2 separate regions of the Homo sapiens genome follow, and region 1 is linked to region 2. Evidence: fine-mapped expression QTL. A gene starts in region 2. The other region holds a variant in brackets. All regions are shown on one strand. Distances are between the middles of the regions.

Region 1 (8,335 bases), 74 kb after region 2:
CAAGTGACTTTGCAAACGGATGTCCTAGGGATTGAAGTGCTGGGTGCAGCAGAGCCCTGATTATGGCAGAGGGAAAGTCACGCAGGACAGGACAGAAGCCACGGCCTGTCTTCTGAACCTCCAGGGTATGGAAGCCTGGTGGGAGAATGGATAGGCAGTGGTTGTCCTGATTTGTAAATTTGTCTTCTCACACTGCCGGTGCGGGGAAACTGTGGAGCAAAGTTTCTCCACGCAGACAGAGCTGGGGTGGAGCTGGCCCACACTTGCTTTGCTGGAGGCAGGGTAATTTGGGAAAATATTTTTGGAAAGCAATTTGCATGCCATCAAGTTATAAAAATGTTCAAACCTCTTGACCCAGTAATTCTACACTTGGGAATTTGTCCTAAGGAAATAGTTCAAAAGAATGAAACGCTTTTGTTCATGCATCCAAATGTTAATTAATTAGAAATTATGCATTGTACTGCATACATTCCAGGATCTCTGCCAGGTGAATGAACGTGTTTGCTGTGGCAATGTTTATAATTAGGACATAGTAAACAACCTAAATTATTTTAAATGCCACAGTGGTTTAGTGAGATGAAACATCTATGTGATAGACTACAGTAGTCCCTCTTTATCCTTGGGGGGATACATTTCAAGACCGCAGTGGATGCCTGAGATCTCAGGTAGTACTGAACCCTATACACATTATGTCTTTTCAGTCTTATAACTGAGACAACTACTAAGTATAACTGAGACAACTACTACGCGACTCCTGGGCAAGTAGTGTATATAACGTGGATACACTGGACAAAGGGATGACTCACATCTTAGGCTGGACCGAGCGGGACCGCGAGAGATTTCATCATGCTACTCAGAATGACATGCAATTTAAAACTTATGAACTGTTTGTTTCTGGAATTTTGCATTTAATATTTTCAGACTGCAGTTGACCGTGGATAAGGGAGGATGCCATACTGTGTTATGCTTTACTACTCTGTGACGCCAGTGGAACTCAAAACGGCCTGCTTGCTGCCGTGGTTAAGGCATATTGTTGGGAGTTCACTGCCTAGGCCTGAATCCCAACTGTGTCATGCTCTGAGCTGCCTGACTTTGGCAAGTGTCTAAGGCTCAGTGTCTTTAACAGTAAGGTGCGTGTGACATTAATACCATCTCATGGGGTTGCTGTCAAGGTTAAAGGACAAAAAGTGTGCAATTCCTAGCAAAAGAATTCAGTAAAAGCCAACCATTATTTTAAATATGTAAGAAATGTGGGTCAATATAAAAAGACTGATAAAGACTGCCTCAAATTTACAGGCCCCTATTTATAGCTTCAGGAAATATTCTGAGTGATTTATCTCCCATATTTTGTCTAGTATCATTGCAATAAAACCTGTGAAGACACAGGTGACACAGAAAGTCAAGAAATAGTTCATCCAAGGAAGCACAGAATGACGGGCAGGTTCTGTTTGCTCTCTCCTCAGCAGTGTTTGGCCAGCGCTTGGATGAGACTGTGGCCTATGAACAGAAATTCGGCCCCCATCTGGTGCCCATCCTGGTGGAGAAATGTGCAGAGTTCATCCTGGAGCACGGCCGGAATGAAGAGGGCATCTTCCGTCTGCCTGGGCAGGACAACCTGGTGAAGCAGCTGAGAGACGCTTTTGATGCTGGGGAGCGGCCCTCCTTTGACAGGTACATTGCCCCACTGCAGTGTCCCACCTCTGCCCTCCCCTCTGCTTGGCTTGGCTGGGAGGGCCTCTCCATTCCAGTTGAGCTATGGGACTTGCATAGAGACTTCTAAGAGCCCTGGCTTACAACAGAAAGAGCCTTTGTTTCGCCCATGATTGGGAATTTGGGAGACGGGAGCACAGTTAGGAGAGTGTGCAGATAGTTTATGTGACAGATGATGTGAACCAGAACTGGAACCCTGCTGGGCAGATTCAGGTGATGTTTAAGGCACAGGAGAAGGTGATGTGCAGAGGAGGGGAGAAAGATGGGACGTTGCCTGAGGCTCACCCTTCAGGACAGATGAGGAACATGGAAGAGCTGAGCTGTACAAACACTCAGTGTAGTGGAGAATGCACCAGATCTATATCCAAGGGCACCAGCGGCTTTCGTTAGCATTCCAGAAGTGGCTAGAACCAGGACTTCTTGTTAGTTTCCTGGATCACAGTACTACGTGATTCTGACTCAGTTCTGAGCCCTTTTGCAGGAGCACATCCTGATATCTTGGCCGCCTGGCATTCCTAAGTGTGGAGGTCTCCCAGCCCTGTTTGGGGCATATCAGGCATAGTGACATTTCCTCCCACCACCCCCTTCCTCCCCACCTTCTCCAGCCACTCAGCTGAGGTTTCCTTCTCTGCCACACTCAGCTAGTAAAATCCCCACCCGATGTTGTGCAATCTCCACCCCAGTTGCCTGCGTGAACTTGTCCTGCTGGCATAAGATTGACTGCTCTTTCCAAATTAGCAGCCCATAAACCAAGGTTTAATAAGATGGGCCTGAACTCTACCCAGTTTCCAAAAATGAAAGTTGCTAAGCTTATTTTGGACAATGGGGTTGGGTTGATTCTGAGAAAATTGTGAAGACCTAAGTGTCATCTTGTGTAGAAGCTCCCTCACCCCTCACTCTAATCACCAACGCCGCCCATTTTTCCTCCAAAGCTTCTCTGAGGTCTATATGTTTCTCTCCATGCTTATGGCCACAGTTGTAGTTTGGACAACCATAGGGGTGTCTTTCTTGCCCTTAATAAGTTAATTTCCCATGGGTGCTATATTTTAGCACCCTAGGAAGCAAGAGATGGGGTTCTTATTGGAACAATAGCCCGTTATTGGCATCAAACACAGGGACCTTTCAGCAGCACCATAAACTGCACCTTGTTATCAGGCACTTGTTCCATTATGCTCACCACCTTTATATTCAGTTTCTTTTTATGTTTTCAGTTAACCTTGGCCTGAAGAAAGATACAGGTGGGTTGTTGCTAGAGCAATGCCATATAGTGTGCCAAAAGGAATAGAGGTGATTGCTGGGATATGCCAAATAACTGCCTTAGGCTCTAGCCTATGCACTATGGAGTTGGCATGGGTGGTGGTGTGGGAATCTTTGATTATTTTGAAATATTTGAGGCTGGAAGAAGGAAAATTACCTTACCTTGCGACATCTCCACCCCTAGAAGTGAGGGGTAGGGTTTTTACACATCCAGAAATAGGAAAGGTCATCGGGGGCTTTTCAGGGGCTTCGCAGGGGCAACTCTTAGGTCCACATAACCCTTGAGAGGACAAGTCTGATTTGGGAGGTATGACTGACTCTTATTTGATTCTTATTATTTAGTTACATTTGGGCATATTTAGGAGAGACCAGGTCTTCTCTCTCCTATTCCACTCATGATTCTGAAAACCCTCTTTTCCCCTTTTTCTGCCCTCTCTCCACCCCCTTTTATACTCCCCTACTTCTCATTCCATGGTGTGTTTTGGTGTTGAGGGCTGTGCCCCGCAATGGGCAGAGCATAGAATGCCGGATGCATAGGGTAGGGAAAGGAGGGGAGGGGCTTACAGGGATCAGGCTGACTTTGGGATCATAGAATTGACAAAACCAATAACTCAAGACAGGTCAACAAAACTGGCAAATTAACTCTGAAGTGAAAGTGACCAGTGTTAGATGATTTCCTGAGAGTGATTCTGGCCTGGGAGTGGGAGAGGAAGAGACCAGCCTTGAGACAGTGTTAACCTGAATTGTGTGTGGGAGTTCTGAAGAGGGGCAGTGTGAAAGGGGGTGGAAAGAGGGCAGGAAAGGGGGAAAGGGAGGGTTTTCAGAGTCAAGAGCAGACCAGGAGTGAGAAGCTATGG[T/C]TGTAGCTTTTTCTGCCTCCTATAAAAGGAATTCTAGGAGTCAGTGGGTGGAAGAAGGGGTATTTGGGAGAGCAAGGAGCTCCCTCTTGCTGTCCCCAACTTCACGGCTGTGGGAACTCACCCAGATCCTCTGCATTGGTTATGTGCTGGATTCCACCCCAAGATGCCCCCATTACCTCACTAGAATGAAGGTGAGCAAAGTTGCTGTTTGGTGAGACTAGTGCAGGTCTTTCTGGTCTCCTTAGACACAAAAATGTGAACTTTAAAATCTCCTTGCCAAGTTTCTACCAGGATGGACACTGCCTGGCTACAAAGCTAACACACTTCTCACCCCTATGTGTCTGTGAGAAATGCACTTACAGACATGCCACATTACAAGCATCAATGCCCCCAGGGAAGGGCTGGCAGAACCATCTGAGTCTTGGGTAATCCCTAGTGCATCAGCCGTTGAACCCAGAAGCCACCTGGCTCCTGACTTACTCTTAGCCCTTGATTAAAAAAAAAAAAAAAAAAAGAATCATTTAAGGGTGCTCTATTGGGTTAGAGGAACAGCAAACTCAGAAAAAATAATGCTACAAATTTAGACCATAAAATAGACATCTGAGTTAGCCCTAGTACAATGGGGTGCTCACATTAAAATAAAAATTTATAGAAATAATTGTTTAAGTTCCATGGTGTTAAGTGCTAAAAAGGAAACTCAACACTATGAAAACTTAGAACAGGGGCTTTTCACATGGTCTTGTGTATTTAGGGAGGTCCCCAAGAAAATGACATTTAAGCTGAGACCCAATAAACAAGAATGAGAGTTAGCAAGGCCCAGCAGTGGGCATGGCTTGTCAGGATTATTTTTGGTGAAATGAACTGGGAAGCTTTCTGTAAGTTTCAGTGTTGTAAGATGATTTATATAGCTAATTTTGCTCTTTTATTATAACTTTGAAGTATCCATGGTGTAGCTGTATTTATAATCCCTTTCTCTTTTCTAATGATGGATGCTTTTGCTGTCTAAATTTCTCCTGATTAAACTGTCTAGGTGTCTTTTTTATTGTTGTTGTTTCTCTTCAAAAGTTCAAAAGATCCAATTTCTTTTCTTTTCTTCTCTTTTTTTTTTTTTTTTTTTTTGAGACCAAGGCTAGAGTGCAGTGGTTTCACCCAGGCTAGAGTTCAGTGGTGTGATCTTGGCTCACTGCAACCTCTGCCTCCTGGATTCAAGTTATTCTCCTGCCTCAGCCTCCTGAGTAGCTGGGATTAAAGGCACCTGCCACCACGCCCAGCCAATTTTTGTATTTTTAGTAGAGATGGGGTTTTGTCCTGTTGGCTAGGCTGGTCTCGAACTCCTGACCTCAAGTTCTCCACCCGCCTTGGCCTCCCGAAGTGCTGGGACTACAGACATAAGCCACTGTTCCCAGCCAGGATCCAGTTTCTTGAATTATCCTTTACACTGTTTCTTCCCTTTCAAACTCTGTTTTCTTCACTCATTCCATTGGTGTGTTTTGGTGTTGAGGACTGTGCCCTAGAGTGGGCAGAGTATAGAATGCTGGAGGCATAGGGTAGTGAAAGGAGGGGAGAGGCTTACAAGGATCAGTGTGACTTTAGGATAATAGAATTGAAGGGATTTGGAAGACTGATTGGATGGGGGTGAAGGAGAGGTCCCAATCAAACAGGAGTCCCAGGATGCTGATAGAGACAAATGGGTGGATTGCAGTGTAGGGACTTTAGGAAGATGCAACTTTTGGACTTTGGGAGAATTCTGCTCCTGCAAATTGTCAGCTGACTGTCTTTCTGCCACTTTCTCGGGAACTTCTCATAACATATTTTGACAAAAGTACTTTTTCTAGCCTGGCTTTGCCTTGGGTATTTTTGGGCAGTGACTCAGCAGGGAAGGATTTTCCAGAATCCCCATGTTAAATGAATGGTTCCTACCCCAGATTTCCTGAGGGCAGCCATGGAGCATAGAGTGGGCTCTGTGCCAGCCCGTGTTCTCCTATTGAGGTAGAGTTCACAGGCTGCAAAGGGGAAGCCTTTTCAGAGACAGCTACAACAACTGGCTGTCAAAACCAAAGTAAAATGCACACAAAGCACCAAGACAGAGCTTTACAATCAAGCCCCAGTATTCTTGCTTCTGTTGCCTCACATGCCTCCCTTCTCCTCCTCTTGTCCAGATCCACCCCTCCCTTCCCTCCTAGGACCAGGAGACATGTTCTCCAGCCTATTCTATATTTCTCATCACTGAAATCAAGGAGATTCCAAGGTTATTCTGGACCTCTTGCCACATCACAGCTTTTCACGATGCTACCAGGGCTGCTACCTAAGAATGCCAGGTTTTATCAATATGAAATAAACAAACATTTCTTCAATAATCAGCTTCAGGAATATGGTAGTGAATCTTATTTTCCCTTGTAGTGTTGCAGAATCAATGCAATCGCCTTGTAAGCCAGGGGTCAACAAACTTTTCTTAATGGGCCACATATTAAATATTTAGGCTTTGCAGGCCAGATGGTCTTTATTGCAACTATAATACTCTGCTCAGTACATAAATGAACAAGTGTGGTGGTGTTCTTCTATAATTTTACTTACAGATGCTGACATCTGAATTTCCTGTAATTTTTACATCACGACACACTCTTCTTCTTGTGAGTGTTTTTTCCCCCAGCTATTTAAAAATGTAAAAATAATTCTTAGCTCCCAGGCTGTACAAATAGAGGCAGTGGGACAGATTTGGCTCCTGGCCCGTGGCTTGCCAAGCCCTCCTGTAAATGGAGAAGCTGAACTGAACAGCCGTGCCTCTTTCAGTCAATCAGGCCCACGGGGAGGCGTCCTCTCCTCATGCTCCAGGCTGACACACATGCTGCCTGCCTCATGCCCTAACTCCTCACCGCCTTTCAGAGTTCATCTGAGGTACTCTTTCATCTGACAAGTCACCTATGTGTTCCCATCTCTGCCTTGGGTGTTCTTTTTCCATACTTCCATAGGATCCTGGGTCCTGGGCTTCCCATATCATGGCATTAGCCGCACAGTATTGTAAGGACATTTTAATACTTGAGTCCCCAGAGTTCTGTGGCTCGATGGGGCCAGGGCTCCATCCCTGGATTGGATGGCTACTGATGTCCCTTGGATTGGCTACTGAAATCCCAGTGCTTGACAAGTATCTTGCAGTATCTTGCACCTAATAGGTTTTCTTGATGCTTATTGATTGAGTGAATTATTGAGTAAATACGTGAGTGAACCTCAGAACTATTTTAAGCACTCTGGAAGATTAAAGAGAAGAATGGACCAAGGATATAAAGGAGTTAACACAAGCAATATTAGAGACTAATTAGACAATGCTAATTGTGAGGCACTAAATGACTTGAAGAAAGAAGAAAGCAATAAAGACGAAAATCATTAAGGAACGTTTAGTAAAAATGTAGACCTTGAACTTACCTTTGAGGTAGTTGGGTGGAAGAGACAGAGGAACATTTATTCAAGAATGTTGTTCCAGAAGGGCGAATTAACAAAAATGTTTTGGTCTGATTCTTCTTTATCAGACTACTCCTCTGCAAAATTTCCCTTTGTAATTTATGGTTCTATTCACTGAATCATCAGAATGGAAGAGAGGAACATCCTAAAGTTTTTCTTTCAAAGAGTTTCACAGAGCGTTGCTTATTTTCTTCCAGAGACACAGATGTGCACACTGTGGCTTCCCTGTTAAAGCTCTACCTCCGAGACCTCCCAGAGCCCGTGGTTCCCTGGAGCCAGTACGAAGGGTTCCTGCTCTGTGGGCAGCTCACGAATGCGGATGAGGCAAAGGTTTGCATCTTAGAGTTAGTTGTCCTGCCTTAGAAGAAAGTGATTGGTTTTCTGGACACTAATCCAGTAGGCAACAGTGGGTCAAGGGGCCTGTACTTTTTGGTAAGATAGTCAAATGCAACTTCCTCAGCAACAAAAGGTATATGAACTCAATCATAATGACTGGCAAACCACAGCCTTCATGAGATGCAATAATCCAATAAAGAATTGGACCATAATCAAATACTGCTAGATCACATTAAAAGTAGTGAGAAAAGGAGGATACATCGGAGGACGGTTTCAAGCATGATGGCCTTGCTGAGACTTGCTGGGACACAAGGACAGGCTGGAAGGCAGGTGTGAGGTCACATAGCTCAAGCTCTACAGCAGCTGTGAGTGTCAGGCGTGGTCATCCAAGGAATGCATGTGCCAGGGAGAAGAAGGACAGGGAGGGTTTTTTGATTGTTTTTCTTTTCAGCCACAGCTGCCTGTAGGGTCTGTAACCACCATCTGCAATATGCTTGTGAGAGTGCACAAGTTCACTAACAAGATTTTTGATCCTGTATAAATTTATTTCTAGAGAGGCCTTATAGTCAACAATGACCACACTGTAGTCATGTTATTATAATCAACCAACCAACCAAACAACCAAAGAAACTGATGAAACCCAACCAACAACAATAAACCTTGATGATTTTTAAACAAGATTTTCAAATCCAAGTGATCCATGAAGAAGTTGATGTTTA
Region 2 (8,335 bases):
AGTCAGAACTCTTTGTCAAGGTTTACCTGCCCTGTGTGATCCAGCCCTGCTCAGCCCTGACTATCTCTCCAGCTTCGTTTCTCCTCAGCCCCACCCCTTTCATCCTTCTTAGGAGCGACCTGAAGAACTTTCTTCTCTCCGTGCCTCATTCATATTGTTGGTTTTGTCTGGAATCCTTTTTCCAACCCCCTTGCCTCCCTAACTCATTTGTCAAGCCTTACTTTAAAAGACACTTCTTCCAGGAACCCTTCCTTCACTCCCCAAGTCCAGTTAGGCCCCTCGCATATACACCCCCCCTAGCTCCCTACACTTTCCCCAACATAGCTCTCTCACACTGTATTTAATCGTTCACTTAATTGTTCTTCTCCCCCAACAGACTGTAAGAGACAACAGCCGGTGTCAGGGCGGTGAGGTGGGGAAGCAGAAAACACGTCTGCTTGTTCACGAACGTTCTTCCAATGTCCAGCAAAAATTTGGTCCTTAATAAATCCGCTTATCATTCAACAAGCCAACAGATGGAACAATGTTTGCTTGCGCTACTGCAGATGCTAATTCAAACTTTGGGACCAGGCAAGGCATTTGGCTCTTCATTTTATGAAGATCAGAGAGAGGGAGCGCAGTACCCAGTTGACTGACCGAGAGAGAGCTCTGTGGTGGGGGAAGGCTGCTGTGTTGGGCCCTTGTGGGGAGTGTGCTTTCCATCTGATTGCCTTTCCGCATCTGCACAACTAACTTCCCCCATGGGTCACGAGTTTTTCCAAGACTGACAGGAACCTACCCTGAAAAGTAAAGGAAGTTCCCTGCGTGTTTCTTAATGACACCTTCAAAATATTTTCAACATTCCTCAGTTTAAAGGTCCCAGGACTGAAATTTTAGATGGTGTCGAATTCCCCCGTGGAGATGCTGCTGGGCCGGGCCAGACAGCTACCTCTCTCACACCCGCTTAATTAAGTTGGGATACGAAAAAGAGCAGTGGTGTTTGGGTCAGGCAGGCAGTAGTGCAATGTCTCCAAGTAGCTGAGTCAAGTTCAGCGGAATCCAGCTCCCTGGGGAGGCTGGAGGGTAGCTGGGTAGACTGGGTGAGTGTGGTGGATTGGAGTCTTGATCAGCAAACACTCCGGCCCTTCTTCCACCCCTCCGGCCCTTCTCCCTCCCCACTGCTGCTGAGGACTGGGTGTACTTCCGGCCTCACTGACTTTGAGCTTGGCCATGTGACCTGTGTTGGCCAATGGAATGTGAGCAGACAGGGTGTGCGCAGAGGCGTTAAATGCGCTTGCAAGGTTCTTCTCTCTTGTGCTCCTTTCATTCCTGAAGACAGGAGTATACACCAGGTCACCACTGTTCCTTCAGCCTCGTTCTCTGGATATACAGTTTGGATACATTTAGTTTGAGATGGCTACTATAGATCTAAGCAGAGATCCATGTGATTTGGAGTTCAGGGGGTCTGGGCTGGAAATACACATTGGAATCATCTGCAAATATGTGACATTTAAAGCCTTGAGACAGATGAGCTCACCAAGGTGTGAGTGTGGATGGAAAAAGAGTCCAGTCGAGTCTTGGTTTCCTTCAATATTTAGAGGTCAGAGAGATGAGAAGGAATCAGCAAGAAAACAGACACGGAAAAGCCAGAAAGGCAGGCAGACAGCCAGGCCAACCATGGGCCGTGGGAGCCCCATGGACAGAGGGCTCAGAGTTGGAGAGAGCTATCAAATGTGTCCGACACTGCTGATGGGCCCGTGAGATGAAGATGAAGCCCTGACCTGTGAGTTTAGTGACAGGGAAGTCGTAGGTATCCTTGATGAGAATATATTTTGTGGAGTCATAGGGGCAAAAACATCAACCAAGGGATTCGGGAGAGAATAAGAGGAGAGATATTTGCAAGTTAGACAATTCTTACTAAAGCTTGGTTCAGAAATGAAGGAGAGAAATGGGACTCTAGCCCAAGGGGGTGGTGGCATCCAGAGAGATTTTTTATGGGATAAAAAATAGTAAGTTTGAACGCTGACAGGAAGGATCAAAGAGAGAGAAGAAATTGATGATGCAATAGGGATGGGAGAGTGTTAACAGCCAGTTCACCCATTGTACCAAGAATAAGGTCAGGGATACAGCTTGCATGCAGGTAGGTGAGCAGATAGAGTGAGGGAAGCTTGTGGACATTCTCTTTCAGTTACATTGATTTTCTCAATGAAACGGGAACCCAGGTCGTCAGTAAGAGTAAGCAAGTGGCAGGTGAAGAAGAAAGTATGACAGAGTCATCTAGGAGAGTTGGAGAATGAATGGAGCAAGGCGTGCAGCTTAGATGCTGGCTAGCAGTGACTGTTCTGAGCACTTTGTACTGGCTTTTCTACTAAAGCCTCACAACAGCCTATGAAGTAAGCCCTATTATTTGCCCCATCTACAGATAAGAATTGAAGCACAAAGTGGTCAAGAAACTTGTCCATAGTCCCACAGCAGGAAAGCCAGGATTTGACTACCAGTGATCTGTTTCCAGGGCCCAAATGCTTAAGCACTAGGTTAGGCTGACCCAGTTAAACATGAAAGCTTGTCACAGAACTGAACTAAATAGAATAGAATAAAGGTTGAATTAATGTGTGTGGTGCAACCACTCTGTGTCAAGCTCTGCACTAGATTCCTCTGCAAAAACCCTTTGAGTTGTGGTTATTATCAACCCCATTTTACTGATGAGGACATTAAGGTCTGGAAAGATTCAGTTGCTTGTTCAAAAGTTGAAGAGCTAGCAAATGGAAGCCCACACCATGTATACAGCCCACACACCCTGATTCTAAAGCCCACACCCTGTGTACAATGCCAAAGAACCCTTAGGATATGTGAGTGGGTCGACCTAGCTTAAGTTGCTTCATTAAGCCAAATACATCAAAACCCTCCCTACATCAGGCTGAGATCACTTGCAAACTTTATCCTGAGCACCTGGAGAGCTTGCGACATGGTCCTTACAGCAGGAAGAATTTAAAAGAAGATAACTTTGGGGGAATGCTTGTTGTTTTTCTGACCATTTTTGGATGCTTGATCCGTTAGGTGAGGAAGAGGAGAGCTTAGAGTTGAAGTAGATGATGGGAGTTTCGACATTTTCTTCTAATTAAAACTGTAATCTTTTATAACAGAAGCAACCATTCTGGTTTTTCAAGCATTTCCAAAAACCATTTTCTCAAGAAAGAGTGCTCATAATGTATCATCTTCACTGAACAGCCACCCACTTCCTCAAATGCAAGGAAGCAGACAGTTAAAAAAGAAACACACACACACACACACAAAACCAAGAGGCAGCAGTTGTTTATCACGACCTCAACTCAGTAAGGCCTGAGATTCTTTCGAAAAGGAGCTTTGCTTCCCATGACGCAGAGGGAAGTGTCAACTGGGATATTTCTGGTAAAACTGAAAGCAAGAAAAGCAGGGTGCTAGCCCCTGTGGGACTGAGGGTGGAGGCTGGGGGAGTTTGGGTGCCATCCTCCAGTGACAGATGGATGGACCTTTCATCTAAGAGAAAGGAGGAGACACGTTGGCAAATCAGCCTCAAGCCTAAGATTGCTTGTGAAGCAATCATAAGGAGGAACAAAAACAGACACAAAAACAGAGGGAAAGAGTGAAAAGACAAGAAGGGCGCAAACTGTGACAGACTCACCGCTTCACTAACTACTCACTTAAACTGGAAGCAAAATGTCCCTAAAATTGCCAAGGAACTGGGATTTCAACCTGAAAGTGGAGGCTGCGAAAATAGGTATGGTTGGTGTCTTTTCGTTGCCTCTGTGATTCTTACGTATACTCGAGCACCATTTGCATGTTGGTCTGCAGGGAGCATAGTCTACTTAAAAATGGATCTCGCAGCAAATCTGAGTTTGAGGGACCATTTGCATTTAAGTTGGCATGCCAGGTCCAAGTTCTAAAATGCTGGGAGGGGGTTCTCTTTCATTTGGACAAAACAGTGGGATGGCACTCCTTGGTGTGCAGGATCTGGGGTACTTCGGATGATTTAAGGCTACAGACTACACACAAAACTGTGAGTTTTTAGCATATTCCATTTCCTTCCTGTTTGGAAACTCATCCATATTTTGAATGGTTCTGAACAGGAGCACAAAGACTAGAGTCTTTTGAAGTGCTCAATCTGTAAGTAAATTCAATGGGTGTTCTGTTTTGTGAGCCCAGGAGTCAAGGTGTATTAAAAGGTAGTAGCAAAAGGTAGACAACAAAAACAAGACAGGAACATAAAAACGTACTAAAGTATAATAAAGACCTTACTTAATAAAAATATAATTAAAGGAACAGAATGGGAGGGAATTCTTAGATGAGTTGGAAAAGAGATGTATTTTTTATTATTTTAAGGGAGACTGGCATATTTTCTGAGATAGTCTGGCCTTTAATCCATACCCTGTCCTTCTAATGATGATAGTGATACATTAAGTTTAATCTATATATTCGTTATGAAGTTCTTTACATAGATTTCTTCTATTGCTAAATTGGTCACAGTAATTCACATCAGAGCAATCGGGCTGAAAACTATTGCCTACATTTATGTATCTCACCCATACATGAGATAACTTCCTTGATATTAGATATAGATAAGTATTAAGGTGTTTCTAACAGCTTGGAGGAATTTTGCTTGGAAAAAGGTTTAGATTTGAACCTCTAATGGGGTTAAGTGTGCTACTAAAATAAGTGCTCCATTGAAAAGTCACAAGCGGAGCATTAATGATGTAGGTCTGAGAAAGGGTTTGAAAGAAAACAGAGTAATCAGAGAAGCCATTTATCTTGATAACTAGGGGAGATTAGCGTTCCCTAATCAAGCTGTGAATGATTGTATGCTGAGGTCAGTTCAGAGAAAAGGTAATGTTCATACCTCTTACAAAAGCAAGAGATTTTCCTCCTAACTATCATTGATACAAATGTACTTGGCTAATGCTCAATCTATGTCATACAAATTATATGGTTCTGTTCCTTTGAAAGTGTCCTGCTTCTACATAAATAAGGTCATTCTGCCTTCTCTCCACCTATGTTTGAACACAGGTTATTAGGGTCTTACTCTCCTTTGGTTTAAAAAACAAGAAAGTTGAGACAATTAATAGTTAAATGATTTTTTTCACAGATATAGGAAATTACCACACTAGAGCTCAAGACTGCATATACTCAGGTCTGGGATTTGATTGAGTGAATTTCATGATTTTTACCAATGTTTCTTAAAGCATGGTCCCATAGATAACCTATATCAGACTCACATCAAGTGCTGGCTAAAAATGCAGATTTCTGGGCACCATCCTTACAAAATCAGAATCTCTGGAGGAAGGCCCAGGATCCTGCATTTTGACAAGCACCCCCCACTTTCATCCTCACCTGAGGAAGAATTCCTGCTGTAGGTACTGTGGTCTATGTTCACTAGCCCCAGCAGACAGTTTTCACCCATTTAGTATAGGGCACAGTGCTTGTTCTTAACTGGGCACACAATAAATATTTGTTGGCTGAATGAATGCTTCAGCCAACAAAAACAAGCAGATGATGTTATTTAGTATTACTTAATGAAAAAATAATAATAAGGACATAATGAAATACAGAGGAGCCCTTGTCATTATCCATGCTATCTATAAGTTTGTCACCCTGAAGGACTGGACTACAGTAGGATGCATTTATAAGTGTCACATGAACTAGAATTCAGATCATAATCTGAGTCCTCTGATGGGGGAGAGCCCTTGACTCAGTCACAGGACTTCCAGTCCCCTCTCCAGCATCCTGTGTCCAGGTGTAACTGTAGGAACTGGCTTACCAATATATCAAAGAAACTTACCTCTATTGGGAAGACCTGTGGAACTGGGAGTTATGTCAGGAAAGCTGACAATCTGTGGTTTTAACGTTTTCTCAACCTAGATACCATTGACATTTGGGGTTGGATAGTTTTTTGTTGTGGGGCCTGTCCTGTGAATTATAGGATGTTTAGCAGAATCCTTGGCCTCTACCTTCTAGGTGATGGTAACACCCCCCTACCACTACCAGTTGTGACAAATAAAACTGTCTTTACATATAGCCAAGTGTTCCTTGGGGATGGGGGTGAGGGTAATATCTTCTCTAATTGAGAACTCCTGGAGTAGATGATCACCAAAAGGGTGGAATATAAGGTCATTTGGGACTAGAACCCAAATATTAACTCATGATTCACTCTGTAGCTCAATTTTTTGGAGGCTTTTATTGAGATCTGTCCTCAGGGAGCCAGGCCATAGCTTAGGAAGGACACTAGAATGGGCCCTTGGTGAAATAGCAAGACACTGACCCAGAATGTGACCCAGGAAAGGGGCCCTAGCTTTTTTTGATGAGCTATGCTTCCAGTTTCCCCAGAATCTTGTGAGCTGGAGTGAAAGTGAAAGTCTCTGAGAGCGAGGGGAGGGACTCTCCACTGTACTTCCATCTCAGAGCTGAAGAGGGTCTTGCTGGATGGCAGACTCACCTGAGTCCACTACCATGAGTCTGACAGATTTTCATGCAGTGATGAAGAAAAGTCACAGAACTTCCTGAATCTGACCTATTGATCCTGGCAGGAATAGGGGTTGGAAGAAAAAGGAAAATGCAGAACAAACAGTCTTGACTTGAGGTGGAGCCAAGAGCACACACTTCTTCCTGTGATCCTTTATCATTTTCAATTTTAGAATCATGACAGCCTTTCACTGCCTTCACGCAGTTACTCAAATATTTTGCCTTTTTAACTGAATTGTCATCACTGGAGGACAGGTCCAGACTTTCTGGACCTCCAGCCCCAGGTTACAGGGCTTTCTTGAAAGAGTTACATGGCTTCCCAATGACCAGGCCAGTCTACTTGAGCACATTTTGTACCTTATTTGAACACTGAAATGCTGGTTCCCCAGTTTCAGGAGAATCCTGAAACTATATAGCCCATGGTGAACTGATTTGTGTTTGTTTGATGTTCAGCTTTCTGAACATCAGAAAGTGGTGAGTGCTTTCTTTACAATTCATTACCAAACTTACTATATGCTAACCAGACCAGCCTGGGTTATGGACTGAATGTGGTCTGTTTGCTGTGCCCAAAGTATTTGCTTTCCATGAGTAGCCTCCGGTCCCTGATAGATAAAGGTCCCCGATAGATAAAGGTCCCCACACATGCAAGTAGAGTCACTGCTAAAAATACAAAAAATTAGCTGGGCATGGTGGCGGGCACCTGTAATCCCAGCTACTTGGGAGGCTGAGGCAGGATAATTGCTTGAATCCGGGAGGCGGAGGTTGTAGTGAGCCACGATCATGCCACTGCACTCCAGCTTGGGCGACAGAGCAAGACTCTGTCTCAAGAAAAAAAAAAAAAAAAGAATATGAACATGGCCTTCTGTAGACAGTGAACAGCTACACAAGGGAGCTGTTCCTTCCAGGGCCCACTCTATTTTTATGCAGAGGTTACATTGCCATTGGTTATTTAAGTAAAAATGTCTGTCCGTAATGTTGCTGTTGACTTAACATTTAGGCATAAATTAAATTCTCTCCACGAAGTGCATGCTTCCTGTTGCCCAGGCCAACAGCCTTCTGGCCATTTGAGGAAAAAGGACTGATGTCACCTCTGGGCCTTCTGCAGCAGCAGCAGAGTGGGGACCAACCTAAGTGGTGATGGGAAAACAGGACCTGGTTTTATATCCACTCATGCACAAAATTCCCCCTGTACATGCCAGATGAGGTCAGCTTAGATTCTGTACTTTGTCTGAGACTGTGCACTTGGATTGGCAGAGGCTAGCTTGATGGTTCTTATTGCCTATGTGTCTGAAACTAGGCCAGGGTTAAGATGCCCAATGGCCCTGGCGTGGGTATACATCACTATAAGTCACTTCATTAATGGTAGTGCTGCCATCTCCCTGTCTCTCACCTCACAGTTATGAAGCATCTTCATGTAGCATCCAATGGGAGAACTCTGTGGAGACTCCACCAGCTGGAATGTGATCCTTTTGAGTAAGGCCCACTATGGGGGTGTTGGAAAGATGCTGGGACCAATTGAGAGAAGTAAGTTGATGAAAATGGTCCTATCACACACAAGGCAGCTTGAGGAAAGAATCTGGCATGAAGGTGCACCCCAGTCGAGTGGTCTGAACTTGTGTTAAGATACAAGACATGGGAGGGAGTGAAGAGCAGAAGCAAAGTCCCACTGGTGGCCACAGCAATTGAGACCAAATAGTACCGGAAGAGCATGACGGAGAGCCACAGCGAGGCACAGGCAGATTGTGGGGATTCTGTCACAGAGGATGGCATGGAAATTTTGTAGAGTCCCCAGACAGGAACTGAGATACAAAAGTTACAAAGAGAGAAAATAATTGACATTTTTTGTGTTATGCTTTACTCATCA

Alleles and levels. Positions count from the first base shown, and alleles are read on the strand shown. Sizes are in standard deviations (SD) of each study's normalised expression.
With allele C in place of T in region 1, the expression in monocytes of the gene that starts at base 3,287 in region 2 is lower (small effect, 0.39 SD a copy in BLUEPRINT).

Evidence for each region. PIP is the estimated chance that this variant, and not a neighbour inherited with it, causes the effect.
Region 1: its variant is fine-mapped to the expression of ARHGAP25 in monocytes (BLUEPRINT, PIP 0.93).

What each region holds. Positions count from the first base shown.
Region 1 is chr2:68,805,810-68,814,144 of GRCh38, forward strand. It overlaps ARHGAP25 (Rho GTPase activating protein 25), which reads left to right. Exons shown (of 11, transcript NM_001007231.3): 5 at 1,464-1,671; 6 at 7,478-7,610. Among named protein-coding and RNA genes, the nearest start is that of LINC01888, 22 kb to the right of the region's middle. The variant T/C (reference allele first, on the strand shown) is at 3,825.
Region 2 is chr2:68,731,525-68,739,859 of GRCh38, forward strand. ARHGAP25 (Rho GTPase activating protein 25) reads left to right here and starts at 3,287. Exons shown (of 11, transcript NM_001007231.3): 1 at 3,287-3,736. The coding sequence starts at 3,676. RefSeq lists an enhancer at 8,052-8,281.